Regions from separate parts of the Homo sapiens genome. Here all the other regions are linked to region 2. The links come from fine-mapping of genetic effects on gene expression. A gene starts in region 2. Each other region holds a variant in brackets. All regions are shown on one strand. Distances are between the middles of the regions. Region 1 overlaps LOC124902985 (a long non-coding RNA gene). Region 2 holds the start of MRPL42 (mitochondrial ribosomal protein L42). Region 3 overlaps NUDT4 (nudix hydrolase 4).

Region 1 (10,625 bases), 60 kb after region 2:
GTCTTACCCCAGCTTCCCAGCCTTTTTTCTCCAGCTAAATGCCCCTGTCCATTGACAGCTGTTTTGAATGGTTCCTGGGGAGTCAGCCAGGTGAAGTCTGAAATCTTCTATATTAAATTCAGGCGAGGGGCTGACATTCATTAACGCTCAAGGGTATACTGGCTCCTAGGTCATTCACATAAAGGAGAGAAACTGGTCTATCCACTTCCATTCTAGCCCTTTCTAATCTTTCTCTAGACCAAAATCAGGGTGCTCTTTTTGCGGTGCAAATCTGGTGTCATTTCTGTGCTTTCAACACTTTAGCATGTGTATTTAACTTTTTAAAAACTTTTTGATATAGACAAATAATAAAATGCACAGATCTTCAGTACAGTTTGATGAGTTTTGATATACCTGTGAAACCACCACCCTAAACAAGATAATAGACTATACCATCATCTCAGAAAGTTCCCTTGCTCCCCATTTCCTGCCATTTCACCCTCTTCTTACCTGCTACCCAAAGAGGAAACCAGTTTCTGATTTTTGTCACCATAGATTTGTTTTGTCTATTTTTGGATTTCATACAGTCATACAACATAGACTTTTTTGTGTCAGGTTAATTTTACTGCACATAATCTTTCTGAAATTTTCCTGTGGTGGCGTGTGATCAGTAGTCTGTTTAATTTATTTATTTATATGGAGTTTTGCTGTTGTTGCCTAGGCTGGAATGCAGTGGCGCAAGCTCACCACAACCTCCGCCTCCTGGGTTCAAGTGATTCTCCTGGCTCAGCCTTCCGAGTAGCTGAGATTACAGGCATGTGCCACCAAGCCCGGCTAATTTTGTATTTTTAGTGGAGATGGGGGTTTCTCCATGTTGGTCAGGCTGGTCTCGAACTCCTAACCTCAGGTGATCCACCCACCTTGGTCTCCCAAAATGCTGGGATTACAGGTGTGAGCTATTGCGCCTGGCTAAGTCTATTCCTTTTAAATGCTGAGTGTGGATGCTCTATATGAATATATAGCTTTTTTTTTTTTTTTGAGACAGAGTCTTGCTGTGACACCCAGGCTGGAGTGCAGTGGCATGGTCTAGGCTCACTGCAACCTCCTCGTCTTGGGTTCAAGTGAATTATCCTGCCCCCAGCCTCCTTAGTAGCTGGGACAACAGGCACGTGTCACCATGCCTGGCTAATTTTGTATTTTTAGTAGAGATGGGGTTTCACCATATTGGCAGGCTGGTCTCAAATTCCTGACCTCAGGCGATCCACCCACCTCAGTCTCCCAAGGTGCTGGGATTTCAGGGGTGAGCCACTATGCCCAGCCTATGGCAATTTATTTATCCACTCTCCTGTTGATTGACATTTGGGTTGGTTCTAGCTTGGAGCTATTTTAAGCCTGCTATGAATATTTGTCTTCAAGTCCTTTGTGGATATGAGTTTTCGTTTCTCTCAGGTAAATACTCACCAAATCATAGGGCCTTTGATAGTCTAAAGACCCATTGTTTTTAGGATGAAGACTCAAACCTAAGGCCCCACATGGTCCTGACCACTTCTCTGGAGGCGTCCTGCACACTTGCCCCTTCCCTTAACTCTGAATTTCAGCCTCTATGTATATGTTCTTCCCTCTGCCCAGAACATGCTTCCCTCCCTCTCTTCCTGTTAACCTTGACTCATCCTTCAGATCTAAACGCTGGCAACATTAAGGTAAAGCCCCTTATCATAGGCATTCCCAGCTCTGTGTGCTTGATGTCCTAGCACTTACCAAGACTGTGGCTTTATATTGACATGTATGAGTATTTGTTTAATGTTTGCTTCTCGTGCAACAGCAAGCGTCACTAGGGCAGATGTTGTGTTTGTTTTATTCACGCAGTGCCTAGCCTAGCTTCTGGCACATACTAATCACTCAACAAACCATTGTGGGATGCATGAATGATGACTGCCCTATACCCCATGGCGAATTTTTTTCTCTACTTTGGTGAAGTCTCATTTGGTCACCCAGAGAAGAAACCCTCTGTGCCCTCATCATGGATTTTTTCATGACCTGGACACAGCAAGAGGGGAAAAGACGAGGCAATCAGTTACGTTCAGGCTACCTGGCTTCCAGGAAAGAGAAAAGCTTAAACTTCAATCTTGATCATTCTTGTCCTAAACCATTATGTAAACCAAATTCCTGCTAAACGGGCTTCCAATCCAAATAAGACAACAAGGCAACACAGTTAGCAAATATTTCACCTTGAAGGAGGCCAAGAGATTTGCTCCTGGTATTTTTTCCCCTTGGTTTGTCTTCTGGAACAACCGGGTACTGGGGGCATTCTCAAGATGGCACTGCGTTTCTTAGAAAGTGGGACTGTTTCTTGGTAGAAGTTGTTCCAGACGCTGGGTGCAATGGCGCACGCCTGTAATCCCAGCACTTTGGGAGGCCGAGGCAGGTGGATCACCTGAGGTCAGGAGTTTGAGACCAGCCTGGCCAACATGGTGAAACCCAGTCTCTACTAAAACTACAAAAAAAACTAGCCAGGTGTGGTGGCGGGTGCCTGTAATCCCAGCTACTCCGGAGGTTGAGGCAGGAGAATCACGTGAACCCCAGAGGCAGAGGTTGCAGTGAGTCGAGAATGTGCCATTGTATCCAGCCTGGGCGATAAGAGTAAAACTCCGTCTCAAAAAAAAAAAAAAAAAAAAAAAGAAAAGAAAAATTAGGGGCCATAATGTTCTTCCATCAATAAAATTTGTTTCCCACGTGGAAATGCACAACCATGGGGCATTTTTACTGTCTGAGTGGCCACATGGGGGTGCTGAGTCGAAAGGCACATTTAACAACGTGTTGTTACTGTGAGCAAGGCTATTCGGGGATGCGTTTTGCTATGCATCCCCCCAAAATCCCAATACATGCAGTAATAAAGATGATTAATATAATCTTACATACCTTCACATGACTCTGTCTTTTTCATGGGGAATTTCCTCCCCAGGTGGGCGTTTTGTCTGTCTCGAATGATAATAATGAGTAGACAAGTGTATGGATACTGTCTCTTCTTTAGATGTTTTGCCTTTGCAAAAAGAGTGCAAATCGAAGTGATCCTACAGATGAGCTGTAAGTGTTAAAGAAAACAACATTAGTTTGTATCACCACCAGACTACTTTTATTGCCACCAGAAAATGAAAGTGTTTTAGGAAACAGCAAAGCCCTATAAAAGGAATAGAATGATGTCCGCCAGTCTTGAAATAGGGATGGGTGATTCTTGAAGAGGATTTGAGGAAGTCAAAGGTGATAATACACGTTAGAAAGTTGTGGGGGGTACAGGTGATGGATTGCTTTTTATTTAAAAATATTTATTATTATTCTTTTGTACTTGATCTTAGCCAAAAGGCCGAGGAGCAATTATTATTATTTTTTGAGACAGGGACTCGCTCTGTCACTCAGGCTGGTGTGCAGTGGTGCTCACTGCAACCTCAACCTCCCAGGCTCAAAGGATCCTCCTGCTTCAGCCTCCTGAGTGCGTGCCACTGTGCCTGGCTATTTTTTTTATTTTTTTGTAGAGATGGTGTCCCACTGTGTTGCCCAGGTTGGCCTCAAACTCCTGGGTTTAAGCTATCCTCCTGACTCAACCTCCTAAAGTGCTGGCATTACAGGCGTGAGCCACTGCACCCGGCCTGGATTGCTTTTATAATTAAAACAGAAAATGATTTAAAAATCTAGCAGAGAAATGAAGGTTAACATAAAATAACAACAACAACAACATAGATGATATTAACACTCCTGGAAAAGCATTGAATGGAAGAAGGAAAGATGAAAACAACTCCTTCTCCTCCCCCAAAATAAACAACAAAAAACTTGATCTTGAATATGGGTCCATGGAAGAAACTCTCCTTCAGGACATTTTAGATGGAAATAGAGTCCATATGCAGTAATGGGTGTGCTTTCATCTAAAATGAGCTTCTGTTAATAATAGTTCTAGAGCACTTTGTGTGTGCTAAAATTTTTTTCTGAGATTTTGGTTTGAGGATCTTTCCTAATTTAAGAGAATTTTATTCGTTCACTGTTTTGTTAGGTGAAGAGTTGGAAATATTTCTGTCTCATTAAACAGCCTCGATTCAAAGACAGACCACCTGCCTGATTTCCTACTCTAGTCCTCTAAAATAAAGACAGGCAACTGTGGGCATTCCTGAAAATTGTTTGCCTTGTCCATTCAAGCTCATTTTTAAAGAATGACTCACGGCCAATCTGCACTCCAGCCTTTGATACTTAAGAGTGTGTGTGTGTGTATGTGTGTGTGTGTGTGTGTACGCAGAGGAATGGTGGAGAGAGGTATAAAAAGAAAATGAACAAAGAAGTGTGGGTTAGAAGCCATACTCTGAGCTAAGGGCTGCACTTAATTGGAAATTAGGGGCCAACCTACAAGTACAATGCTATAAAACTAAGATCAGGACAAAGCCATCAAAGTCCAAGATTACTCTGGGGGATAGAGACATGAGTCTGAAGCAAATGACATTGTGCCTCAGTGTGTGGGCAGACCTAGCTTTGAGGAGACTGGGGAAATGTTATAATTTTGGAAACCCTCTTGAATAAAGAATACAATTTTAGGTACAAATACAGATGCTCCTCAACTTAGATGGAATTGCATCCTGATATACCTACCATAAATTGAAAATATCCTAAGTCAGAAATATAGCCAGGTATGGTGGCTCATGCCTGTAATCCCAGCATTTTGAGAGGCCAAGGTGGGAGGATTGCTTGAGCCCAGGAGTTCTAGATCAGCCTGGGCAACATAATGAGACCCTGTCTCTACAAAAAAATTTAAAAATTAGCCAAGCATGGTGGCACATGCCTGTAGTCCTAGCTACTTGGGAGATGGAGGGGGGAGGATCGCTTGAGCCTGGGAAGTAGAGACTGCAGTGAGCTATGATGGCATGATGGCACTCCAGCCTGGGCAACAAAGTGAGACCCTGTCTCTAAAAAAAAAAAAAAAAGAGGGAACAAAAAGGAAATGCACCTAACCTACTGAATATCATAGCTCAGCCCAGCCTACCTTAACTGTGCTCAGGACACTTACATGAGCCTACAGTTGGACAAAATCATCAAACACAAGCGTGTTTTATAATAAAGTGTAGAACATCTCATGTAACGTACTGAATACAGTACATTGTAGAGTACAGTATCAGTTGTTTACCCTCCTGATCTCATGGCTGGCTGGCAGCTGTGGTTGATACCACTGTTCAGCATCTTGAGAGTACTATTGAATATTGCTAGCCCAGGAAAAGATCCCAATTCAAAATGCCAAGTATGATTTCTACTGAGTGTGTACCACTTTTGCACCATTGTAAAGTCA[A/G]AAAATCATAAGTTGGGGACCATCTGTACAATAACAAGACGACATGGCAGTGATTACTAAACACATACACACATCCACTACACCCGACTTCGCGTATCCCCAAGCCAGATTCCATAGTGTCCAGGGGCACTCCAGAGTTCTCTGACACGAGGAAGATTGTGATGGAAGAAAAGTCAGAGAGAAAGGACTTATTTGTTAAAATGCATGATCAGGTGCAGTGGCTCATGTCTGTAATCCCAGCACTTTGGGAGGCAGAGGTAGGTGGATCACCTGAGGTCAGGAGTTAAAATAAAGGCCAGGCGCAGAGGCTCATGCCTGTAATACTAGTACTTTGGGAGGCTGAGGTGGGCAGATTGCCTGAGCTCAGGAGTTCAAGAGCAGCCTGGGCAACATGGTAAAACCCCATCTCAACTAAAATACACACACACACACACACACACACACACAAAACAGCCAGGCGTGGCAGTGGGCACCTGTAGTCCCAACTACCCAGGAGGCGGAGGCAGGAGAATCACTTGAACCGGGAGGTGGAGGTTGCAGTGAGCTGAGATCACACCACTGCACTCCAGCCTGGGTGACAGAGCAAGACTCCATCTCAAAAAAAAAAAAAAAAAAAAAAAGAGAAAAAAAAAAGAATTTTATTTTTATTTCTCAAAAGGTATACGCACTTTCCATTTTGATACTGTCAAAATGCCCTCAGAAAAGTTGATGTCTGTAGGCCCACAATGGTACACAAGTGTCCTCTTATTCCTTAACAAAACTGAGTGAGATTCTTTTTTAATCCCTGTAAACCTGCTGGGTAAAAAATAGCTTATTGTCAATCATACTTGCTATTTTTATTATTAGCTTGATGGCTAATTTTATGTGTCCATTTGGCTAGGCTCTGGTACCCAGTTTTTGGTCAAACACCAGTCTAGACGTTGCTGTGATGGTATCTTTTTAGATGCGACTTAAATTTAGGCTGGGTACGGTGGATCATGCCTGTAATCCCAGCACTTTGGGAGGCCTAGGGGAGAGGATCCCTTGAGCCCAGAAGTTGAAGACCAGCCTGGGCGACATGACAAAACCTTGTCTCTACAAAAAAAAGGAAAGAAAAGAAAATTAGCCAGGCTTGGTGATGTGTACCTGTAGTCCCAGCTACTTGGGAGGCTGAGGTGGGAGGATCAATTGCACCTTGGAGGTTGAGTCTGCAGTGAGCCATAACTGTGCTACTGCATTCCGGTCTGGGCAACACAATGAGACCCTGTCTCGAACAAAACAAAACAATATTTAAATCAGTAGACTTTGAGTAAAGCAGATTACCTCCATAATATGGGTAGGTTTTGTGCTCCTTATGAGAATCTAATACCTGATGATCTGAGGTGGAACAGTTTCATCCCGAAACCATCCCCCCCGACCCCTGGTCTATAGAAAAATTGTCTTTCATGAAACTGGCCCCTGGTGCCCAAAAGGCTGGGGACCCCTGTCCTAGAAGAACTCATGTTGGCATTAAGAGTGTATCCGCCATCATCCATGTGTCCTCCACCTGAGGGATGCCCTTTTGCTCCTCCACTACCTTTTCTTCCACATCTCAGACATCTTGGAGGGCCTCTGTTTCTCGAAGGAGATGGTGGTCTCCACCTAACACCACTTTCAAAAGATGGTTCGTTGGCTTGCTCTACTTGAATTGCTTTTCCATCCAAAGACTTTCCCTTCATATCGTTGGCAGCATTCTTAGCATCTGCAGGGCTCTCAAAAGTAATCAATGCAAAGTCTCTGGACTTGATTTTCCCATCCTTCATCAAAAGAACTTCTGCTATGTGGCCATATTTCCCAAATACTGCTTAAAGAGCCTTTTCATTAGGTTCTGTATTAAGGCCACCTATGAACAGCTTGCCAGGTGGATCTGCTTCCACAATTTTGCTCCTTTTCCAGATTTTCTGAGATCTCACCTTTATGCTTCCCTGGGTGATCATTAGCTAAACTAATCTAAATGTCTCTTTATATATAATTACACATGCACACATACATATACATACACACACACACACCCATCCTATGGGTTCTGCTTCTCTGGAGAACCTTGTCTAATACAATTAGTGAGGTTACCTAGGTCAAATGTTTATTGGTATCTGTATTTCATTTCATCTTATTCCCTTCCCCCTTCCCTTTCCTCCTTTCCTCTTCCTCCTCCTTTCCCTCTCTTTCTTTTTGTTCTTTGCCCAGATCTTTTTTTAGATCCTCTGTGTGAACAGGGGTCCCCCAAAGTGAGGGGCTCTGGCCTATGTTCCCTAATTTGCTGGGAGTGAAAAGCCTTTTTGACTAGGGACTTGTACTACCAGTGAGATTGTGCAAATAAATACATTAAATAAATAAAGCTAAGTAATGGAGAAGGCTGCTTAGTTATGGGAACTTACTTTCAAAACCATTTCCTCCTTCATTTATCAGTTAACAGCTGAATGCAGAATTTCCTGTTGTTTCTTTTTTTTTTTCCTTTCCTTCATAGCAAGTGATATCATCACAGCTACCTAGAAGAACGATTTCCCACAGTGACGGAGGTTCCGTGATGTCATTGGGATTACAAAAGCCAGGAAAGAAATTTGCTATCGGTATTTGTTGCCAGAAATTACGAAGCAAATTAATTTCAAACTTTCTGGGAAAGAAACCCTTCAGTGAAAGTAAACATTTAAGAAATTATTATTATACAAGGAAATTCTGTCCTTAATCTGCCAGAGAGAGAATGCCTGCAACCTCAAGGTACTAAATAAACAGGCCTGGTATAAGAGAGAGTTCTATTTTGGGGATATTTAGTGGGCTAAGTATCTGTGCCAGCGGTCCCCAACCTTTTTGGCACCAGGGACCTATATCATGGAAGATCATTTTTCCACAGACTGGGGTTGGGGATGGTTTGGGGATGAAATTGTTTCACCTCAGATCATCACACATTAGATTTTCATAAGGAGCGGGCAACCTAGATCCCTCACATGTTCAGTTCACAATAGGGTTCGTGCTCCCGTGAGAATGTAGTGGCGCCACTGATCTGATAGGAAGCCATGCTCAGGTGGTAATGATCGCTCACCGGCCGCTCAATTCCTGCTGTGTGGTCTGGTTTCTAGCAGGCCATGGACGGGTACTGGTCCACAGCCGGGGGGTTGGGGGCCCCTGATCTGTGCCAAAACGCTAACTATCTTCAGATTGGCTAGGCTGGTAACTGGACTATTTTTCAAGCAACCAGACCTGTCCTGATGAAGCTTTGAAGTGTCTCGCTTTCTCTATCCTAGGTCAGATCTCCTGAACACGGTCTCCCTTCCCTTTAATGGAAGTAGAGGTGCTAGGTTTCTGTGACTGCTGTAACAAATTACCACAAACCGGTGGCCCAAAACCCCGGAAATTTATTGTCTCACAGTTCTGAGGCCAAAAGTCCAAACTCAAGGCGTCGGCAGGACTGGCTTCCTCTGCAGGGTGCAGGGAGAGTCCGTTCCACGTCTGGCTCCTGTCTTCTGGAGGCTGCCGCCATCCTTGGCGTTCCTTAGCTCATAGGCGCATCCCTCTGATCTCTACCTCCATCTGCACAGCCCCTTCTCCATGTGTCTTCTCCCTTCTCTTCAAGTTTTTTTTTTTTCTTTTCTTTTCTTTTTTTTTTTTGAGTCAGGGTGCTCTGTTGCCCAGGCTGGAGTGCAGTGGCCCTATCATGGCTTACTGTAGCCTTGACTTCCAAGGCTCAGACAATCCTCCTGCCTCAGCCCCCCAAGTAGCTAGGACCACAGGCATGTGCCACAACGCCTGGCTGAATTTTCAATTTTTAGTAGAGATTGGGGGTCTCACTATGTTACCCAGGCTCATTTTGAACTCCTGGGCTAAAGCAATCCTCCTGCCTTGGCCTCCCAAAGTGCTGGGGTTACAGGTGTGAGCTACTATGCCTGGTCATGTCTCTTTTATGGTGATACTTACCACTGGATTTAGGGCCCACTCTAACCAGGATGTTAGGTCATATTCTCAGGTGAAAGGTGTTAGGGCATGGACATATCTTTTTATGTCTTTTTATGCCACAATTTAACCCACTGCAGTGGATGAGGGTTTATGACCGCCTGGCCCCATCTTCTCCCGGAGGTGATGGTGACTCTTGAGAGCTGACTCTTTCAAGTGGTGGCATGTGAAATCTTCACAGGTTCATTCATTCATTACTGTAATGGGCTGAATTGTGTTCTCCTGCTGCTCTCAAAGTCATATCTTGAAGTCCTAACTCAACACCCAGTACCTCAGAATGTGACTGTATTTAGAGGTGGGGTCTGTATTAGTCCATTTTTATGCTGCTGATAAAGACATACCTAAGACTGGGTAATTTATAAAGAAAAAGAGGTTTAATGGACTCACAGTTCCACATGGCTGGGGAAGGCCTCACAATCACGGAGGAAGGCGAAAGGCACATCTTACATCACAGCAGACAAGACAGAATCAGAACCAAGTGAAAGGGGTTCCCCCTTATAAAACCACCAGATCTCGTGAGACTTATTCAATACCATGAGAACAGTATGGGGGAAACTCCCCCCATGATTCAAGTATCTCCCATGGGGCCTGTCTCACAACAGGTGGGAATTATGGGAGCTACAATTCAAGATGAGATTTGGGTGGGGACACAGCTGAGCCATATCAGGGTCTTTAAATTGGTATTAAGGTTAAATGAGGTCATTGGGGTGGGCCCTGATGCAACATGACTGGTGTCCTTATAAGAAGGGGAGATGAGGACACGGGAGAAGGCAGCCATCTGCAAACCAAGGAGAGAGAACTCAGAAGAAATCAATGCTGCCAACAACTCGATCTCAGACTTCTAGCCTCCGGGACTATGACAAAGTATTTTTCTGTTGTTGAAGCCACTCAATCTGTGGTACTTTGTTATAGCAGCCCTTGGGAACTAGTGCAGTTACTAAGAACCCACTCTCTGCCACATCTTCCACAAGGCAGAGGCACATCCTCTGGGACTGGCTGTGAGTCTGGAGATAGTTACCATTTTAGTCCAGATAGTTAGCCCACCAAGTACCCCCAGAGAAGGACTATTTGTCTCTTACTAACATCTCACTGATATGGTTTATTATTCTAAAGATTTGGGTGTAAACAAGAGTTTATTATGTCTTCAAATATAAAAAGCTACAGTAAACAGCTGATTTTTGAAAGTATAATGAGGAAGATGCCATAGAAACTGTGAAAGAGGTCAGTGAAACTAGAGGAGTCCACCTGGGCTTAGATGATGTGATGTTTAAGCTGGGATCAAAAATGAATAAATCACAGGTGAACGAGGAGGAACGTTCCAGTCAGGGAAAAGTAAAAGTCTAAAGAAAGCCTGAGCAAC
Region 2 (10,625 bases):
AAGCACAGTAACTTGTGTGACTTTGAACAAGTTGTTCAAACCTCTCTGTGCCTCTGTTACTTCTGTTTGTAAAATGACAGTAACAATAATTGTTTAAGTGTTTAGAAAGTTCATTCCTTTTTTTTTTTTTTTTCTTGAGACAGAGTTTTACTCTGTCGCCCAGGCTGGAGTGCAGTGGTGTGATCTCGGTTCACTGCAACCTCTGCCTCCCAGGTACAAGTGATTCTTCTGCCTCAGCCTACTGAGTAGCTGGAATTACAGGCGTGTGCCACCACGCCCGGCTAATTTTTGTATTTTTAGTAGAGACGGGGTTTCACCATGTTGGTCAGGCTGGTCTGGAACTCCTGACCTTGTGATCCGCCTGCCTTGGCCTCCCAAAGTGTTGAGATTATAGGTGTGAGCCACTGTGCCCAGCCAGAAAGATCATTCCTAATAGTTTGGTCATAAGATTGCTCTGGAGTCTTTGCTCTCTGATTGATACAAAGAATGACTTTTTTTTCTGGGAAGTTACAGAAGAAAAGGCAATCCTCTTTTAAATGGAAGCCATTTGATGCCAATTCCAAAGTTCTAGAATTTTGTCTGTTTGTCATTTTACTAGCATGAATTTAAAGCATTTGTAGCTGAGCACAGTGGCTCATGCCTATAATCCCAGCACTTTGGGAGGGTGAAGTGTGCGGATCACTTGAGGTGGGCGGATCACTTGAGGTCAGGAGATCGAGACCAGTCTGGCCAACATGGTGAAACTCCGTCTCTACTAAAAATACAAAAATTAGCTGCGCATTGTGGTGGGCACCTGTAATCCCAGCTACTCAGGAGGCTGAGGCAGGAGAATCACTCGTACCCAGGAGGTGGAGGTTGCAGTGAGCCGAGATCACATCACTGTACTCCAGCCTGGGTGACAGAGCAAGACTCCGTCTTAAAAAAATAAATAAATAAAATAAAATAAAGCACTTTTATGTAGGCCAATATAAGTTATTTGCTGGTATTTCAAGTTTGTATTTTTGGAAATTATACTTTTTAAGTTGCTAGCACTGACCTCTTAAGTTAGGAACACTTTGTGACATGGCCTCTCTTAACTACTCTTACATCACAGTATTTGTTTTCCTTCTACCTTTCTCACTGCCACTCCTGGGAGGCCCTTGCTAAAGGTTATCCTCCTCCATCTGATTTCTAAGCCTTCGAATTCCCTGGGGCCAGCTTCTAGGCCCTTTATCTTTTTTTTTCTATACCTAGTCCAACCTCTACTCTCCAAACACACCTCTTCAAGTACCTGCCTTTTGTTTTTTGTTTTTTTGGAGATGGGGCTCTCACTCTGTTACTCAGGCTGGAGTGCAGTGGCATGACCATAGCTCACTGCAGCCTCAACCTCCAGGGCTCAAACGATCCTCCTACCTCAGCCTCCTTAGTAGCTGGGATCACAGGTGTGCATCATCAACCTTACTAATTCTGTTTATTTTTTGTAGAGACAAGGCCTCACTCACTATATTGCCCAGGCTGCTGACTTGTTTTGTATCTCCACTGGAGTGTCTCAGAGCCATCTCAAACTCAACAACTCCCAAACGGAAGTATGCATTTCCACCATCATCAGACTCCCCAAACCTGTTCCTCTTTCAGTCTTCCTTGTCTTATGAAGGGCACCACTGTCAACTAGTCATCAAAGCATCACCTGAAGTATCTTCCTCCCTCTCAATCAATCCATCAGCAAGTTAAGTCATCACTTCCAATTTCAAAATACATCTGGACTCTTCCTGTCTCTCCATCTCCACTGCCACCACCCTCCATCACATGATTTCTTGACTGCAGTACTGCAGTAGCTTCCTTGCTAGACTTGCCTGCGGTCTTGCCACTCTCCAAACCACTCCTCCCAGGGCAGCCAGAGTAACCTTTTAAAAATGGAAATCAAATTATGTCACTTCTTTCATGTAAAAATCTCAAGAGACAGGGCTCACTCTGTCACCCAGGCTGGAGTGCACGGCACGATCATAGCTTACTACCGCCTTGACCTCCTGGGCTCAAGCAATCCTCCCACTTCAGCCTCCCATTCCCAGGGTAACTAGGACTACAGGCACACAGCACCACCTACTCTATTTAATCTCTACATATGTCCTGTGTCCTAACTCCATGTTAACCCCTCCAAGGCTTATGAAGCCCAACATGACCTGGCTCCAAATCTCATCTCCTGCCGCTCTCATCCACACTATCCACCCTACTCCAGTATATGGTAAGCTATTTCCACCACATTAAACCTTTGTGTAAGTTGTTCCCTCACTCAGCCTAAACCTGTCTCTCCCCTCTCTTCCCCCAAAAATGTTGGTTTCTTTTCTGGTCTCAGCTTTGTGAGACCTTCCTTGGTCCCACTAAGTGAGTCTCCCTGTTGGGGACTGGTCCCACTCTGCTCACAGCCATCAAGACTTGACCTCTGGAATTATCTTTGATCCATTCTTCTTACACTTTACGCAGGGAATGTTCAACCAGTCCAGTTGACTGCTCATTCAAATCTGTTTCTCCTCTCTGTCCCTTCCTATTGCACAGTCCAGAAAGACATCATGGGTGGCTTTGGAGGATGGACACGACTGGAAAGGACACAGATGGGCCCTCTGTGGGCTTCTATAAGAGCAAAGATTAGCCTCCTGATATTCCGTGGGAAATGAGGAGACACACTACACAGCCCGTATTTAGTTTTCTTTACTATGTGATGTGTGTTCACTTACTTTCAATACTAGTCACTTCAGGAATATGGTTCTTAACTTGTTGAGGGGTTTATCAATTCCCTGGAATACATAATAAAAGCTATAGATTATTTCTTAGAAAAATATACAAAAGCAAAATTTTGCAAATCATGGGAGAAGGGAATTTCCAGGCGACCGCTTCTGCTTTACCAGCCAATCATCTACTGTCTTGGATACTTGCAGCGTTATCTAGTCTTTTCATTCATTCAGCAAACACTTCCTGGAGACCTATAATGAGACCAAGCACAGTCTGAGATGCTGGGTTTGCATACAGTGAAGAACAAGATAGACATATGTCTCTGTCTTCAAGGAGCTTACATTATCCAGCATAAGAGACATTAAACGAGGTTGGGTGTGGTGGCTCACGCCTGTAATCCAGCCCTTTGAGAGGCCGAGGTGGGCATATCACCTGAGGTAAGGAGTTCGAGATCAGCCGGGCAAACATGGCGAAACCCCATCTCTACTAAAAATACAGAAATTAGCTGGGCGTGGTGGTGGCCACCTGTAATCCCAGCTAATTAGGAAGCTGAGGCAGGAGAATCGCTTGAAGCTGAGAGGCGGAGGTTGCAGTGAGCTGAGATCATGCCACTGCACTCCGGCCTGGGCGATAGAGCAAGACTCCGTCTCAAAAAAAAAAAAAAAAAGAAAGAGACATTCAACGAGCAAACAAATAATCAATATAAAGTCAGGTAATGGTAAATATTCTGAAGGAAAATAAAGCGGGGCATGGAATAAGGGTGGGTGAGGCTATTTTAATGGTGTGGTCCTTTCTAAGATGATATTTGAGAAAGACCTGTAAGGTCATGAGAAGAGGTCAGAGAAGCACATTGCTGGCAATGGGAACAGAGAGTGCAAAGGCCCAGAGGTCTTTCCTTCCTCCTAAGATGGAAAGCGAGGTCCAAGATTCTGCATATTTACTTCCTCCCATAATAGGTAGCCAGCACAGTTCTGAGGGCACAGTGCCAGGTTTTCAGAGTGGAGGTTCTCTTCAGGTTCTGATTTCAAACGTCCAAATCCTAGCCTCCACATTTCAGGGCTTCTCTGGAATGTCTCTTCCCCTGGGAAACTTTAACTCATCTACTAAAGAGCAATCTACGATTTCTCTGAATATTAACATAATTTTTTTAAAAAGTACTTATAGGTTTGCATGGTGGCTCATGCCTGTAATTCCAGCACTTTGGGACGCCGAGGCAGGAGGATTGCTTGAGACAAGCCTGGGCAACATACCGAGACCTCGTCTCTACAAAAATATTAAAAAATTAGCTGGGTGTGGTGGTGTGCGCCTGTAGTACCAGCTACTCAGGAGGCTGAGGTGGGAGGCTCTCTTGGGCCCAGGAGGTAGAGGCTGCAGTGAGCCGTGAGGGAGCCATTGCACTCCAGTCTGGGTGACAGAATGAGACTGCCTCACAAAAAAAAAAAAAAAAAAAAGCTTGTTACTTTCTAAGGGTATGTGTTTGGGGCAGTGATTTTGTTTTTCTGGGCACCTTAGTAACACTGCGGCCACGCTTCCCCAACTAAAGGTAAAAGTCCATAGCAACAATCCTCCCTTTCTCTCTGCACCCGGGCCGCTTTCCCGCGGAGACTACATTTCCCAGAATGCCCCGCGGGCTGGGACGGCGCGCGCAGCGCTGTTTCGTGGGACCAGGATTGAAACAAGATGGCGGGTTCGTGGTGAGAAGCCGTCAAGGTAACCGCTTCCCTCTACTCCTCCTGTCGAGGACTTCCTCGAAACTGGGCAGTCCCACAGTGTTGGTCGGCAGTTGTAGAGGTCTCCCGCCTGTCGTTCCCGGCAGGGCGAGGTTGCCTGCATCCCCAGCCTTTGTCCTTCCTGCAGAAGAGCCGGCATGTGGCTGCGCGTTTCTTATAGCGCCCCCTTTGTTCCCTGGCGGACGCCCGTGGGGAGGTGATGCAGCTTGTGGCTCTAGGGACTCCTTTAGGTCGAAGAGTTCTGGTGCTCTTGGTAGCCTGTTCCTCAAACCTCTGACCCTCAGAGGCTCTGTAGCTTTTGTTTTGGGGTTGAATTCCGGGCTGAGGGACTTGATCTCTGAAATGATCTTCCTGGGGTGAATAATCTGACTCCCAGCAGGGCGTGCTTTTCTCTGGGCTTCGGACAGAGGGGACCTAATTTCCCCCAAGATGTTTTATTCGTGGTCAGAAGTCATGGGTTTACGTCCCACGCATGTATTAAGCAGCGATATACTGAGCAAGTAATCGATTGACCTCTCTGAGCCTTTGTTCTTAATCTGAAATGGAGATGCTGCTTCACACACTTGTGAAAGTCAGAGCACATATTGTATATGAAAGTGGGTTGTAAACTAAAAAGCACACCTATGAGCTCAGGGTTAACGGTGTTAATGTACTGGCAGTGCAAGGTATCAGTGTGAGTGGTTTAGACTAGCAAATAAGAGGGCCTGTGTCCTAATTCTCTTTTATCACTATTGGGGGGAAGGGCACGGATACTCATTGAAGACTATTAAAAACAAGATTTAACAATGGTTATTTGTCATTTATTCACAACAGGCCATGAAGATTGTGGTTTTCCCCATTTTGTCATTGGAGAAACTGAGGATCGTTTAGTTAATGACTTGTTTAAAGTTTCCCAATTTGGCAGTGACTGACTCTAAAGTCCTTGGAAGCAAGACGTTTAAATTTTGTACTTTAGTTTCTTCATGAATCAGAATAAAGATACCTCACATGATTAATACGAGAGCAAAATGAAATGGTGGTGAAAGTACGTTGGAAAGTTAAAGACTTTGTACACATATAAGATGGTGAAATTTTATCTGGGACTTGAGGGCATTTATGAGTTCCTCCAATTGAGTAATAGGCTAAGGATAGGCCTTGTTTGATATTTCTTTATTATTATTATTATTATTAATGGCTCAGGGCAGACAACTATTTCATTTAATCAGAAACAGGATAGTACTGTAAATGATGTAGTATCTTGTGTATGGAACCTTGGAGGGTGTACACAGCCACACTAGCATTAAAAGAATGAATACTCTGTGTACCATTTGTGAGTGACTGTTTCAAGAGTAATTACACATTTACTGAGTATTCATTAAGTGGAAGGAGCTGCACTGGGTCCTGCAGAGAAGTTTGTATCTAAGATAAATAGTAATGGACATAGTTCCAGTGGTTCTGATCTTATATTCTGTCCATGTCGCTCTTCGTCCTGTTGTTCAATCATGTGGAATTGCCAAGTTGTTTAAAAGCATTGCTTCAGTTGACTTCTAGGCAGTGATTCTTACCTTGTTCTTGTGGTGTTTAATATAACTTAAATTTACCATAGGTAGCACTGATTTTTCTTTATCTCTTCAGCAGGAGTAGAAATTGGTATGCTTAGAAGCAGATTCTAAAAGCAGTTTCTCTTCAGAACATCTTTTTTCATACCACTTGATAAGCATCTTGAAACACCATGGCTGTAGCTGCAGTAAAATGGGTGATGTCAAAGAGAACTATCTTGAAACATTTATTTCCAGTCCAAAGTAAGTGAAATTTTTTTTAATGTTTAAAAACTTTTAAACTTTTAAGAATTAAGAAAATTTAAAGCATTTAGTTATTGTATATGCCTGTAATTTGCAGGAGTGTTTGCAGCAATGGAAAGTGGGAGAAAACCTAAATGTCAGTCAGAAGGGGAATGGATAGGTCAGATGTGGTGTCTCATGCCTGTAATCCCAGCACTTTGGGAGGCTGAGGTGGGAGGATTGCTTGAGGCCAGGGGTTTGAGACCAGCCTGGGCAACATAGCAAGACCCCCACCTCTAAAAAAAAATGTGGGTTGGGGAGGGGAATGGATAAATTATGGTACATCTGAACTGTGACTGTCATGTAGCTGTTACTGACATGGAAAGATCTCCAAATAGAAACAAAAAAAGCATGTCAGAACCACATCTATATATATCTATCATATGATCTTATTTGTATGTTTAAAAGATGATCCATCATATGCATGTGTGCATATGCATAAATGCAGAGGTAAAAGGTCTGGACCAAACAGTGGTTATCTGTGTAGCCCACTCTTGGGATTTGGCTGAGGGCAGGAGTAAGGGACTGGTCAAGGGTAACTTTCTCTTGTTCGATTACATGTATTACTTTTTTAGTATTTCTCTCTTTTTTTTTTTTTTAACGGAGTCTGGCTCTGTCGCCCAGGCTGGAGTGCAGTGGCGTGATTACTTTTTTAGTATTTCTTAAAATGTGCGAATAAAGGGTAAATTCACAGTCCCATCTTCCAAAGATAATCATTGTTAATATTTTGGTGGATTGTCATTGTGTTTTTTCTATGTACCTAGCCATTTTTAAAAAAATGAAATGTAATTTCTGCCTTTCTTTTCTAAAGAACTGTATATAGTTAGTATTTTCTCGAAAGCTTGTTAATACATGTTTGACAGTCAAAGCATGGACCCAAATAAGTAAATAGAGTATTAAAGTCTTTTTTCTCAGCCAACTGTGCTTTCTTTTTCCTTTTCCTGTCTGTAAACAGAGTTTATAGCTCTTATAAACAGCTCTTATAGGAAGCTTTCCATTTCTAAAGTAGACATGTATAGAAGGCAACAGTAGGTTTGCCTTTTTATATTAAACTATGTGAGCCAACTTTTTATTTTTATTTTTTATTTTAGATTCGGGCGTACATGTGCAGGTTTGTTACGTGGATGTATTACATATACTGAGGTTTGGGCTTCAACTGAACCCGTCACCCAAATAGTGAACATAGTACCCAATAGGTAGTTTTTCAACTCTTCCCTCCATCCCTCCATTCTGTTTTGAGTCCCCAGTGTTTATTGTTCCCATCTTTGTGTCCATATGTACCCAATGTTTACCTCCTACTTGTAAGTTAGAACATGTAGTATTTGGCTGTTTTTGCATTAATTCACTTAGGATAATGGCCTCCAGCTGCATCTGTGTTGCTGTAAAGGACATGATTTTATTTGTTTTAATGTCTGTGTAATAATCCATGGTATGCATATACACCACATATTCTTCCAGTCCACCATTGATGGGCTTGTTTCCATGTCTTCGCTATTGTGAATAGTGCTCTGATAAACATGCAAGTGCAGCTGACTTTTTAAATACAACTCTGCTTGACCTTGACCTTTGTCTCTTCTTTCTTATTTCCTATTTACCACCATTTGTAATTGAAAGTTTGCTTATTGAATTAGGGAGAAAAGAGCTATTTGAAGAATGGAGTATAAGTAAAGTAATAAATAGGCAATTTGTTATGCTTGAGACGAGGAAAATATTTTACTCAGTAAACACCTTTGTTGAATAGAATGCTCAAAAGTTTGCCAGATCCTACTCTATTTTATTTTATTTTATTTTTTGAGACTGGATCTTGCTCCCAGGCTGGAGTGCAGAGGCATGATCTTGGCACACTGCAACTTCTGCCTCCCAGGTTCAAGTGATTCTCCTGCCTCAGCCTCCCGAGTAGCTGGGATTATAGGCACCTACCACCAGGCCTGGTTAATATTTGTATTTTTAGTAGAGGTAAAGTTTCACCATGTTGGCCAGGCTGGTCTCGAACTCCCAACCTTAAATGATCCTCCTGCCTTGGCCTCCCGAAGTGCTGAGATTACAGGTGTGAGCCATTGCGCCTGGCCTAATTTTTGTATTTTTAGCAGGGGAGGGGTTTCACCATGTTGGCCAAAACTGGTCTCAAACTCCTGACCTCAAGTGATCTGCCCACCTCAGCCTCCGAGAGTGCTGGGATTATAGGCATGAGCCACCGCACCTGGCCACCAAATCCTGCTCTTATAGGAAGCTTTCCATCCCTGCTTCCTTGCTTGCCCCACTCTCCCATTTTTTAGGGCCCTAAACATAGAAACATTTATTACATTATATTCAAAGTAAAATCAACTTAGAATTCAGTAAATAGAACAGGACATTGCTTAAGAGACTTTGGATATAAACCAAAATAAGTCACAACAAAACTGCAATCAGCTTTTGATTATCTAGGAGCATTTTTGTTGTTGAGAATTGGGAGAAAGACCCTTACTCTTACTTCTTAGATTCCTCTTTGCCTTGCAGGAACCCAGCTCCTAGGCTAATGAGAAGTCACATCCAATCAGTTTTTACATAGACTATGTTTTGAAACAATTAGTCCTCACACAGGCCCATCAGAAAACCAGTTAATGTGTCCCTGAATAATTGAAAATTATTTATATATCTTTTTCCCCACTGGATTTCCCACTAAGTTTGTACTGGATCTAATTCATTTTGGTGTCCCTGGGGCCTCTCATTCATGATAGGAGATCTATCAGTGTTTGTTCAAGTAATCTGAATGGTTTAGAGTTAACTCTCAAAATATCTAGTTAACTAAGAATTAGGTTACCCTAGAAAATCATTCCATTATCAGTTATCCTAATACTCAGTGACCTAACTTCTTATATCCGAAAAGTCCCTTATACTGCAAAGTTCCTGTTGCTACTATTATTGAAAGTAAAGGGCTGGGCAGGGTGGCTCACACCTGTAATACCAGCACTTTGGCAGGCTGAAGCAGGCTCTGAAGTTTGAGACCAGGCTGGGCAACATAGGAAACCTCATTTCTACAAAAGTTACAAAAATTAGCTGGGCGAGGTGGTACACGCCTGTGGTCCCAGGAGGGAGCCAGCTTACTCAGGAGGCTGAGGTAGGAAGATTGCTTGAGCCCAGGAGTTCGAGGCTGTGATTGTGCCATTGTACTCCAGCCTGGGAGACAGAGTGAGACCCTGTCTCAAAAATAAAAAATTAAAATTAAAGAAAGTTTCATTACTGTTATTATTGATGTTTAATAAAAAAGGGAAGGACAGTAAGATTGGAGGCAAAGCGAAATCATGATTAAGGAAGAAAGTTCAGTGAGCAAAAATAAAAAGCCTTCCTTATATTCTAGAAGGAATATTTTAAAATTTCCCAAATGGTCAGTCAGCCCGGGAGTGTAGAACACTTCACAGTTTTCAAAGCATGTTAAGCCATTTGATCCTTATAACAGCTTTGATTTTGGTAGCCCATGTAGTATTATCCTCTTTATGAAGGTAAAGAAACTTGAGTTCTGTGGCCCTCATAAGTTCACCCAGGGTCACATATTTGGTAAACAAAAACTGTGACCAAAATCTGGATCTCCCACCTTACTTTGTCCTGTATACTTTCTACTGTACTTCCTTTTCTGTAGCAAGGTAAAATACTGAGCATTTGAAGATGGGACAACTTTTAGCTTTCATAGCTCTTTCAAAATGCAATTAAATATATATATGTAACAAGAATAACTCATAAATTACAGAAATTATTGTTAATTGAAATTCTTTTGGCACATTGAGCTTAATTGCTGTTAACTTTGGCATTGGTCCTAATTATATATTTAGAGCTTCTGCTACTTCTATATCCAGAATTACTTCCATTGGTAAAATATCAGGTAATGAATGTTTCCTTATTTTTTTTTCAAGGTGAAGTCTCACTCTGTTGCCCAGGCTGGAGTGCAGTGGTGCAGTCTTGGCCCACTGCAGCTTCGACCTCCCTGGGCTCAGGTGATCCTGCTATCTCAGTCTCCCAAGTAAGCAAGACTACAGATGTGTACTACCATGTCTGGTTATTTATTTATTTATTTATTTTTGAGATGGAGTTTCACTCTTGTTGCCCAGGCTGGAGTGCAATGGCATGATCTTGGCCCACTGCAACCTCCGCCTCCCAGATTCAAGTGATTTTCCTGCCTCAGCCTCCCAAGTAGCTGGGATTATAGGCATGTACCACCATGCCCGGCTAATTTTGTATTTTTAGTAGAGATGGGGTTCCACCATGTTGATCAGGCTGGTCTCGATCTCCTGACCTCAGGTGATCTACCCACCTCAGCCTCCCAAAGTGCTGGGATTACAGACGTGAGCCACTACGCTTGGCCTATGTTTTGTATTTCTTTGTAGAGATGGAGTTT
Region 3 (10,625 bases), 63 kb before region 2:
TCCATTCACCCCAAAACTTGTTTTACAGGATTACAATTTTAATTCAAAATTTCCAGATTTGGGCTATTTCTGTATGATCCAATAACTTATTTTGTCACAGGGCTTAATTTGCCATTTTTGGGGATTTGTCGACTCATTTTGTCTGAATTTTCACAACTGGTATTATGTCACTAGCTACCTGATACGGCTATTTCCCTTATAACTCAATAGTACCTTAACACAAAGTATAACTCTGTAGAGTTGGTGAATATTTTAGGGAAATATTAGCAAAATGCATGTAGTAAAGACATCTTATGAAAACTGTATTCATGGAATTTGATTTAGCATGCTCAGTTGCCAGTTCCCATTATCGATACTCTTTCTTTGCAGAATACCTTAGAACCGTTATTTCCCTCAGTGTAGATTGCTCTTAAAATGTATTCAGTTATTTAGTGGCCCCCACAGGAGTGGAGTCTTGAAATCTAATTCTAAATGCCAGTCAGTGATGATCGCATCACAGTTGAGTGAAATGGCCTTCCTGTTCAGCTGTTAGAGACTGAAGATTGTTAGGGCACCTTAGAATGTCTCATCTTTTCTAGGTTGTCAACAGGTACTATTTGTCACATAACTAACTTTCGAGGCACTGGAACATACCTGAACTAAGAATTAAATCTTTTACTTTATACTCACTTAAAATCAAGAATCCCATCTAAAACACATAGGTACCTTATCTGAAACTCTTGCACTTCCCCAACCAGGGCAGAAATGAGGTGGGAGAAGTTTGACTAAAATGAGGGATGGGGGAAAGTAAAAGATGTTTTTTTTTTTTTGAGACTCGCTTTGTCACCCAGGCTGGAGTGCAATGGCACAATCTCAACTCACCGCAACCTCCGCCTCCCGGGTTCAAGCGATTCTCCTGCCTCAGCCTCCCGAGTAGTTGGGATTACAGGCGCCTGCCTCCATGCCTGGCTAATTTTGTATTTTTAGTAGAGACAGGGTTTCTTCATGTTGGTCAGGCTGGTCTCAAACTCCTAACCTCGTGATCCGCCTGCCTCGACCTCCCAAAGTGCTGGGATTACAGGCATGAGCCACCATGCCCAGCCAAAGATCATTTTTTTATATAGACTTCAGCCCTTTGTAAATATTGTAACTGGGGAGTATAGAGTAGAAAAAAAGTATAGTTAAAACATTTGTTCTACAAATTAACCTTTAAAAATATAATTACTGCTAAAAATAGAGTGCTGTTACACTTAAGGAAAATTAGTGCCATTTTGGAAATGAGATCTTGTGCCATAAATACAGCTGAACTGAATATAAATGTTCACAAATTAATGCTGTCAAAGGAATGAGTAAAGCAGAAAAACTTTTAACCAGCAACATTTCAAGTACGTAGTGTGATCAAACATGATCATCCAGAATTTTTATATTTTTTTCTTTGTACAGAGGTTACATATTCTGGGTGTTCTTTTATAAAGGAAACATTTTAAATCCCACAAATTGACACTTTCTATCTTCAATGGACTAAGATTTTTTTGGTCAGTAATCTCTGAAATTTCCTTAAATTATATACTTAACATAGCAGAGAAACTGGATTGTTTTTGTATATAAGACTGCTTCCACCTGAAATGCTGTCATAAGTACTGGGGGGGTGGGGGAGTGCCCATCTTGTACATGATATTCTTAGAGGTAATAAGGTAATGATGCATGAATTTATTTTATAAACTCTTGGACTATGTATTTGACATGTAAAATATGTACAGTATTAACGTCAACCATCTCTTTAAAGTTAGCCTATAAATATTGTTGTATAATTTTCTTTGGTCAGAAACACTTGGACTGAATAGTGACACTCGGTAAGGATTTTCAGTGCCATTTAGCAAAACGTCTTTAGTCTATGCAACTAGCAAAAATCTGCATAATGCAACAACACAGTTTTCACACTTCAAATTTTACATGAGGGGTTCTTCACGATTCTCCTGGAACCCAGTCTAGCAAAATGAGAGGAAAGGCCCTAGGGAGATTTATTTCTGTTAAATAGTTAACTCTGCTGAGTATGACAAATAGTGTCTACTATCTCAACCCTCCAAAATTTGCAGAGTGTTGGGACTGTCATTTGTGATTTTTTTTTTTTTTTTTTGGTGGGGTAGTTGAATAAAATTGGGCAGCTAAATTTTTCAGTTCCATGTGCCTCCCAAATAAAAAACAGAAAATAAGTAGTTTTTGTGAATTGACTTGCAGACAAAGTAGAAACTGTGCTGCATGATGTTATTTTGTAAACAGATGACATTTTCTGACCAGGCACATGCCATCCAATTTTCTGTCAATCACACTGTTGTATAAAGCAGCAGAACTGAAGGGGAAAAATGATTGTTGTATACACTGAATTGCTTTGCATGGTCTCATTTGAGATAATTGATGTAAGAATCCTGACTTTTTTATATTTGGAAACATCAAATAAAAATGGAAAAAATGATCATGGCTTTAAAAAAAAAACAAAAACACACACACATGAACTCAGATTTGCAAACCAGGTTTCTGAAACTTTGGGTAAGGTGTATGCTTTTAACTTTGAAATGTATAAACACCCAGCGGAAACGTATACCTTTCAGTGCATAGTGCATTGTGTGCTTACCCTGGGTTGTTTAAACTTGTGTTCAAATATTCCCCCTCCAAGTGAAAGCCTGTCGGGAATTCCACAGTAACACCTTTACTGTTCTCCCATTGATGATCATATACGTTACCTCTTCCTAGCGGTACATTTGTATGATCCTTACTACTGGAATTACCGGGTTAAAAGGAAATGCTTACCACTAAGATGTCAGTATTCTCCTCATGGATATTTTCAGTCTCAATGTTGCCAGTCTAATAGTATAGTATGTGGTTGCTTTACTGCTGTTCTCCCCACCCCCGTGGAGTTGTGTCATTATTTTAATGAATGTGAGCTCTTGACTTACTCTAGAATTCTAATACAGATACTTTCTGCACTAGTATCACTTTTATTATTGCAGTTCCATTTAAAAGCATAACTGGCTAAGTCACCGCCCCACCCGCCGCATTACATTTCCTAAAACATACTGCTGCCAAAGACCAACTGTAGAATCCTTAAGTCCTGTTCAAGTGTCACTTCATTTTTTATTAGGGGTTTCTTAGTTGGAGGGCATGAGAAACTTGGCCCTTTCCAATGTTGTCTTCACATTGGAGTATAAGAATTCTCTATAGGACTCTTTAATTTTTTTTTTTTTTTGGTAGAGATGGGGTCTTGCTGTGTTGCCCAGGCTGGTCTCAAACTCCTAGGCTTAAGCAGTCCTCCAGCCTCAGCCTTCTCAAAGTGCTAGGATGATTGGCATGAGCCACCTCGTCTGGCCTGCAGGTCTTTTTAAGCATTTGCTGTTCAATAATAAGCATCTTCTTTATGCCTAGTATTTGTGATAAGAGCACAAAACAATTTTCTAATCTCAAAGAGCTTATATTCTAGTGGGGTAGAGATAAGTGATTTATCTTGGTGTAGTTTTGGCTTTTTTGTTTGTTTTTTTGAGACAGCATCTCACACTGTCGCCCAGGCTGGAGTGCAGTGGTGCAATCTCAGCTTACTGTAACCTCCGCCTGCCAGGTTCAAGCGATTCTCCTGCCTCATCCTCCCGAGGAGCTGGGATCACAGGCGCCTGCCACCACGCCCGGCTAATTTTTTTGTATTTTTAGTAGAGACGGGGTTTCACCATATTGGCCAGGCTGGTCTCAAACTCCTGACCTCGTGATCCGCCTGCCTCGGCCTCCCTAAGTGCTGGGATTATGGGCGTGAACCACCGCACCTGGCCTATCTTGGTGTTTTTACATCCTTCAGTATTTTTCAAGGTTTTACAGCTTTTTTATCTATAGACTTATACCATCTTCAAAAGCAATACAATTTTATTTGTAGACGTGATTTCCCCCACCAAATGCACATTTTATGGAGCTCTAGGACAAAAGTCAGGATGAAAAGTAATCTATCGCTGGTGCTACTTTAATACCTTCCTGACTGGTGCCACTGGCTAAATTCTAGCAGTACGATGAGAGGGCCATTAAGGCCTATCTTAGCAAGCAAGACATTATAGCAAAGACCTAAACACTCAAAGGTTCAACGTCTTCTAGCCAGGGAACTATTCTCTAATTCTTCCACCTTGATATGATTTCAGCAAATTCTGATAACCCGGTATTACTCTTAATGCATTTTTGTAACATTTGACAAACATCTCCCAATATGTAGACTCCCACTCTCCTGATGCTAATCAGTATCAGACAATGGAAGTAAATTTTCCTGCTTTTCTCAACTTTTCCTCAAATTCATGTTAGTGAAGTACTTTCATTTGGCCATCATTATTTATCAACCTTAAGAAACATGCCTATTGACGAAGTAAATATACTAGGAATTCAACGTATCTACGGGAATGTGGACAAAGACATATACCAAGACAAGGCACTAGAGTGAAAAGCCATTAAAATAAAATGCTCAGCAGCAAAGGATTTGTAATGGTTAACTTGCAATATATCCATATGGTGTAATATTACAGTCATTAGAAATGACATTTGCGTAAGGATCTGAGTGGAAACTGATACAGCCTGTCGGAGAGCTACTGAGTAGTATTTTATCACAGCTGCATACATACCCTTTCACCCAACAGTTCCACTCCTGGGAGTCTAGTCAACAAATGGACAAGTTGCACAACCAAGCTATGGTCAAATATGTGTGTTGTAGGATTTATGAAACTGGTACCAATTTAATATTCAAATGTGATTAAGTCATGGCAATCTATTTACTGGATACTTTGTGGTTACCAAAGAGCTATGTGCTGCCACAGGGAGTCCTTTCAATAGTGATTGAAAAAGGCAGAACACTACTAGACAGAACTACCTGTTTTATGCATGTATTGGCATACACTGAAAAAGCTTAGTCACTTAAAATGAGGTTGTACAGATTGTAGATTTTGTTTTTAAACGCCTGTATGGTTTAAAAAATGTTTTGGGAAATAGACATGAGCAGGGCAGAGAACTACAACCTACAGGCCAAACCCCACCCCACTGCCTGTTTGTACGGCCAACAAGTTTAAAATTTTTTTAATGTTTTAGGTTTTTTTTTTTTTA[A/T]AAAAAATACTATGCCCATTTGTTTACAAATCGTCTGTGGGTGCTTTCTCACTACAATGGCAGAATTCAGTAGTTGAGACAGACCTATGGTCCACAAAGGCCGAAATATTTACTGTTTTAGGAGAAAAAAACAACATGAATTGTAATAACTTGGACTTACTTGGTTGCTCAGTCCTGATGTGTCCTGTTAAAACCTAAGAGAAACAGCACCAAGTTCAATCTAGTGCAATCAGCCTATCACATCTAAGCTGCTTTTGCCAGATCTGATATCTACTCCCGACCTTAAGCCAGGAGACTTTGTAAACTTACTAGGTTATAATAAAACTTAAGAACTATCGATATTTACTAATCTACATCATGGAACTATTTCAAAAGCAGTCATATGGTAAGATGGATCAGGAGTCTTTAAAAATAAAACTGAGAAAGAAAAATCATGTGATCAATTCAGTAGTAGAGACAGAGGTTGGTATCAAGTCTATGTTCATACACTTACCAGTGCCACCCAGCAGGGCCATACAAGACACATGAAATGAGATCAGCTCAAGGGTGACAAGATGAAACTGGGAGAGGGCCGGGGAGACCCGAACTCTTAATATTGGATTCCACACAAGAGGAAAAATTTTAGTCCAGCTCCCAGCATGGCAGCTAATGGCAAGTTAGTACCATAAAGCCAACTCTTGGAATATACCTGACTTCCACGATAAAATGGAGATGAGTGCAGGGGTGAGTGTATAGTTAAGAAAACAAACAATATATTACTAGTCCAGGTGGTAGATGACAGATTTTTATTATTTACACTTCTCTCAAATTATTACATTCAGCATGTTTTGCTTTTTATGTTATTTAAAGTATAAACCCTCATATAATTCCCTAAGATGGGTGGCATGCCAAGTAGCTAAATGAAATATCATCCCAGCCCAAAAGTACTTATTCGAATGAAATATTACATTTTTCTTAAATAAAGCAATAAATTAGGTACCCTATTATCATGGTATTTTCTTTTTTGGCCAGCTTTTCTAGATAAGGTTGTATTGCTACTGCAACTAACAAAAAAGATGTGGCAGGGCTGGGCACGGTGGCTCACGCCTGTAATCCCAGCACTTTGGGAGGCCGAGGCGGGCAGATCACGAGGTCAGGAGATGGAGACCATCCTGGCCCAACATGGTGAAACCCCGTCTCTACTAAAAATACAAAAAATTAGCCAGGTGTGGTGGCAGGTGTCTGTAGTCCCAGCTCCTCAGGAGGCTGAGGCAGGAGAATCGCTTGAACGCGGGAGGCAGAACCTGCAGTGAGCCAAGATCATGCCACAGCACTCCAGCCTAAACTACAGAGCTAGAAAGTGGCTAGAGCAGCCAAAAAAAAAAAAAAAAAAAAAAAAAAAAAAGGTTCCTGAACCATTCAACAGAAAAATGAGGCCTATTCCTATCATTTCCTCGATCCAATTTAGTTCCACTTAGGTCACTGTGTTTATAATGTCTTTTAGGACAGATTTCCTTCCCCATTCTCCATCAAACAACCATAGCACCTGTGACTTTTATCTGTTGGTTTGTATTTAATCTTATTTTTAAGTGCTTCTTTGAAATTGTTTTACAAGTACATTCTTGGTCTAGAGTAAGGTTCTATATAGTTGGCCCTCCATATCCATGGGTTCCACTTCCGTGGATTCAAACAACCAGACAAAATATTCCAAAAAACATTGTGTCTGTAGTCAACATGTATATTTTTGTCATTATTCCTTAAACAATAGTGTAACTATTTACATAGCACTTACATTATAATAGGTATTATAAGTAATCTAAATATTAACATAAGCGGGAGGATTTGTGTAGATTGTATGCATATACAACATCATTTTATTCCAGAGACTTGAGCATCTGCGAATTTGGATATCCAAAGGAAGTCCTAGAACCAGTTCCCGACAAATACCAAGAGATGACTTTACTTTAGACCTAAGATCTTGCTAGACAGCCTTTGAGAGGATGAAGGATAACTAGAGCAGAAGCAAATCGCAGCGAAGTAGACTACAACAATCAAGTCAAAAAACATAAAGCTCCTATCAACACCTCAAGATTTTAGAAAAGCCTCTTAACGGGCAATTTTCTTTTAAATAAAGACTGGGTCCCACTATGTTAGCCAGGCTGGTCACAAACTCCTGGACTCAAGTGATCCTCCTGCCTTGGCCTCCTAAAGTGCTGGGATTACAGGCATGAGCCACTGTGCCCGGCCTGGGCAGTCGATTTTCAGGAAGCCACTTAATGTTCAGATTCTTTTCTTCTCTCCCAGGACTTTGCAGATGCTGCTGTTCCCTCTGCCTGGAGATGTTCATCTGGCCTGAATCCAAAAGTCTGTCCAAGTTACTTCTCTTTTCCATGACAGAGTTACAACTATTTGTCTGTCCCCCTTCCCCATTAGAGTATATGGTCCCCAAAGGAAAGCCCCATGCCATTCACTCACCACCTAATCATCCCCAACAACTAGTGGGCAAACATGAAACACTTTTGTTGAATAATGTGTTTCCTTTAGCCCAGGGATTACAAAGTCAAAGGCTTACAAGGGGGAAGGACTAGCAGGTGTGCTCGGAGGGGACTCTAGCCAACTGGAGAGTAACTGGTGAGAAGACAATGACATGCTCTTAGGGTGTCTGCTACTCAGATCCTCTCAGTTAAGTCCCGTGCACAAAGGTGGGTCAGGTCTACTGTTGCCAGATCTTCAGATCATTCAAAAGTTACCCGAATTCTGGATTTTCATGCAAATCTCCCAATTTTTAAAAATGTTGGCATCAAATTCAGAATGTTTTAACCAGCCACACTGTGTGGGCCAGGGAAAACAGGCCCAAAGGCCAGGTGAAGCTGCAGTTTTCAACTGCTGCCTTGGCCTCTCCCAGAGCCCCTTAAGTCCTAAGAAGGCTCAGTCAACACACTGGCACTCGTTTCATCCCACTGGTTGAGAAAGCAAGTCTTAGCAAAGTAATGGGGGAGTCTTACCAAAACTGCAAAGGAAAAAAATATGATACCATGAAATTAGAAATTCACTGCATTTGAAATGAAAATGACTTATTTCTGTACTTCTATAACTCACAAATTTAGCAGACATCATTTAGACATTTTTGTAGTGCAACAGATTTAAATCTGGAATTTCATGGTTTGTAAATCACTATGTGATACTAGCTATAACCATGAGCAATATTACGGGCAGTAAATGTTGATTTCTATTTCGTTTCTTGAAGTTTTGTGTGGTTCATTTTTAAAGTGAGATTCAATTTCCTTAGCTATAGTCAAATGTACCCTTTAAACAGCCCAAGAATTGTTATAAATGACAGCTGCTATCAGTTTTCAAATTTTACAATATTAGGGTTGTTAACTATTTCATTCTGAATTAAGCTAACATTTGTTACCAAGCAATGCATTTATTTGGAAGGATACCAGTTACCAGTCATCAAAAGCTTTTGTATGTTGAAAATGTAATTTTAATAGTTAATTCTTCATCTTACATAGGAGCACAATAAAATACACCACAATCTGAAGAAACTCCAGAATTACGAGAATAAGAGTGAAGAAAATTCAAATGGGCTACAATATCCATTACCTTAAACTGCAAGAGACAAGGTTGCAACCCGAAGGTTAACATTTATGTATTTATGACTGGCTACATTTATGACTTAAAAATAACAAGAATCAGGAATTAGATATGGAGAGAGGTGGGAAAGAACAGTTTTGTGAGGGGAGGAATTCGTCAATAAAGAAGAAAAATTACTGAATTCCAAATTAAAGAATAAAACGAGCTCCCACAGCAAATACTGGAGGGATGAAAGCAAGAATCATTAACTGAGGACTTGATACTCTCAAAGGGATAAACCTTTCTGATGACACACAAGCTAGATAGTTGAGATCTGCTCATCAGGTTTATAAGGAAGACTCACAAATGCCTCAGCAAATCCCAAATGATCAGATCAGTGTTTCTTAACACACATGAAAGGTTACAGATGAAATTTTCAGATAAGAACCAAGAAAAATGTCATAACCCAAATTTTAGGCAAAAATGTGGCACAACTGTGAAAGTCCTACATGTCAGTCACAACTGCTATCTTTGCTGTGACTTTCCTGTACAGTAATTTTTAAACATTGTGGCAAGACACCAATGATCATCTAATCAGACAACACAAACACATTTATTTCAAATTCCTAGAAGGTTAAAAAAAGGTCAGATACTGATGCTTTATGCATGCTCAGGGCCAGTTTATAAATACTCCATTCAGTACTATCTTAACACAAATCTGCATCAGTGAAAAGAAACTGGCAAAATCCACCTCTTGCCATTCAATTTGTCAGATGGTGAAGACCAAGAAAGAATGTTCCATCAGTTTCAATTTTAAAATACGATTGTCAAATTGGGAAAATGAAATAAACACAGTAAAATAAACTGTACAAAGGCAAAGTAGAATAACAAAAAATATTTTACTAAAACATAAGATTTACAGAAGTTTCCAGACAAGCCATACAAAATGGTCACAAGCTTTTTTTGAAGGGGGGAATCTACACTTGACAGCAATGTTATTAGTGAGGGCTGTGATGTTTGTTTAATGTTCCCATTTTGGTTCCAACAATCAAGCTTGTCCATCTACAGCGTCTAAATAAAGTTAGACTTGGCTAGAGCATATTCTAAAGACCTGGTTAGCTGCTTTTAACCAATGCAATTAGATCACCAAAAAAGGGGGAAAGGAGCCCATAAAATTAAACTACCTCCCCCCTCAAAAATAAAATAAAATAAAATAAAATAAAAACACCCACACCCCTGCAGCTAACCTGACAACTACCTTCATTCACAGTGCTTTATACTTAAACCAGGATGGGGGAAATGAATAAAAGCAGGGAGGGGCCACTGCTTTTAAACGTTTCACAACAATCCAGATGATACTTCTAGCCTCTGCTCATGCTTTATGACAGTGAATCAGGACAAGACATAGATTTGCTAATGTGCATTTAATCACCAAAGGACTGAAGATGTCTGGGCTTTTTTATTCTGTAATGTTTCTAAGACTGTGTCCATTAAATGCAAACAAAGAGGAGGAAGTCTTGGCAGAACAGGAGAAGTGATGCACACTTGATGATCGTATCAATTTAAATATTATTCATGGCATATAGCCTAGTCCATGCTCTAGCTGTAGACAGAAACAAACATACGATTATTATTTTACTTAGTTCAATATGTTACTTTCCAAACTATAAATGGCAAACAACCACTATTAATTATGGAAATGTCATGCTGTAATCTGTTAAATTCACGCCTTTTTCTATAAATTGGATCAGGGCTGAAAGATTTTGTAAATGTCCAATTACCAAAACACTACAATAAAATTAAGAAGTTCTAGAAAATTCAAGAGGATGAATCAAGTTGTCCATTTCTAGATACACAATTCTCCCCACTAATTTTCTTAAAATCTGTAGCAGAAGCTTCTTGACTCCAAATTCCGTAGCCATAAACAGCTGAATACTTTAATCAAATGGGTTACAAAAACAGTTCAAGTTTTC

What was found. PIP is the estimated chance that this variant, and not a neighbour inherited with it, causes the effect.
Region 1: its variant is fine-mapped to the expression of MRPL42 in neutrophils (BLUEPRINT, PIP 0.95). The same link has a PIP of 0.9 or more in esophagus muscle and monocytes.
Region 3: its variant is fine-mapped to the expression of MRPL42 in monocytes (Kim-Hellmuth 2017, PIP 0.90).

The regions. Positions count from the first base shown.
Region 1 is chr12:93,522,794-93,533,418 of GRCh38, forward strand. It overlaps LOC124902985 (a long non-coding RNA gene), which reads right to left. Exons shown (of 2, transcript XR_007063408.1): 2 at 10,380-10,625. Among named protein-coding and RNA genes, the nearest start is that of SOCS2-AS1, 43 kb to the right of the region's middle. The variant A/G (reference allele first, on the strand shown) is at 5,300.
Region 2 is chr12:93,463,139-93,473,763 of GRCh38, forward strand. MRPL42 (mitochondrial ribosomal protein L42) reads left to right here and starts at 4,376. Exons shown (of 6, transcript NM_014050.4): 1 at 4,376-4,416; 2 at 6,054-6,217. The coding sequence starts at 6,148. RefSeq lists enhancers at 4,208-4,267, 4,328-4,597.
Region 3 is chr12:93,399,825-93,410,449 of GRCh38, forward strand. NUDT4 (nudix hydrolase 4) reads left to right here. Exons shown (of 5, transcript NM_019094.6): 5 at 1-8,322. UBE2N (ubiquitin conjugating enzyme E2 N) reads right to left here. Exons shown (of 4, transcript NM_003348.4): 4 at 5,860-10,255. The coding sequence ends at 10,215. Among named protein-coding and RNA genes, the nearest start is that of NUDT4, 27 kb to the left of the region's middle. The variant A/T (reference allele first, on the strand shown) is at 5,098.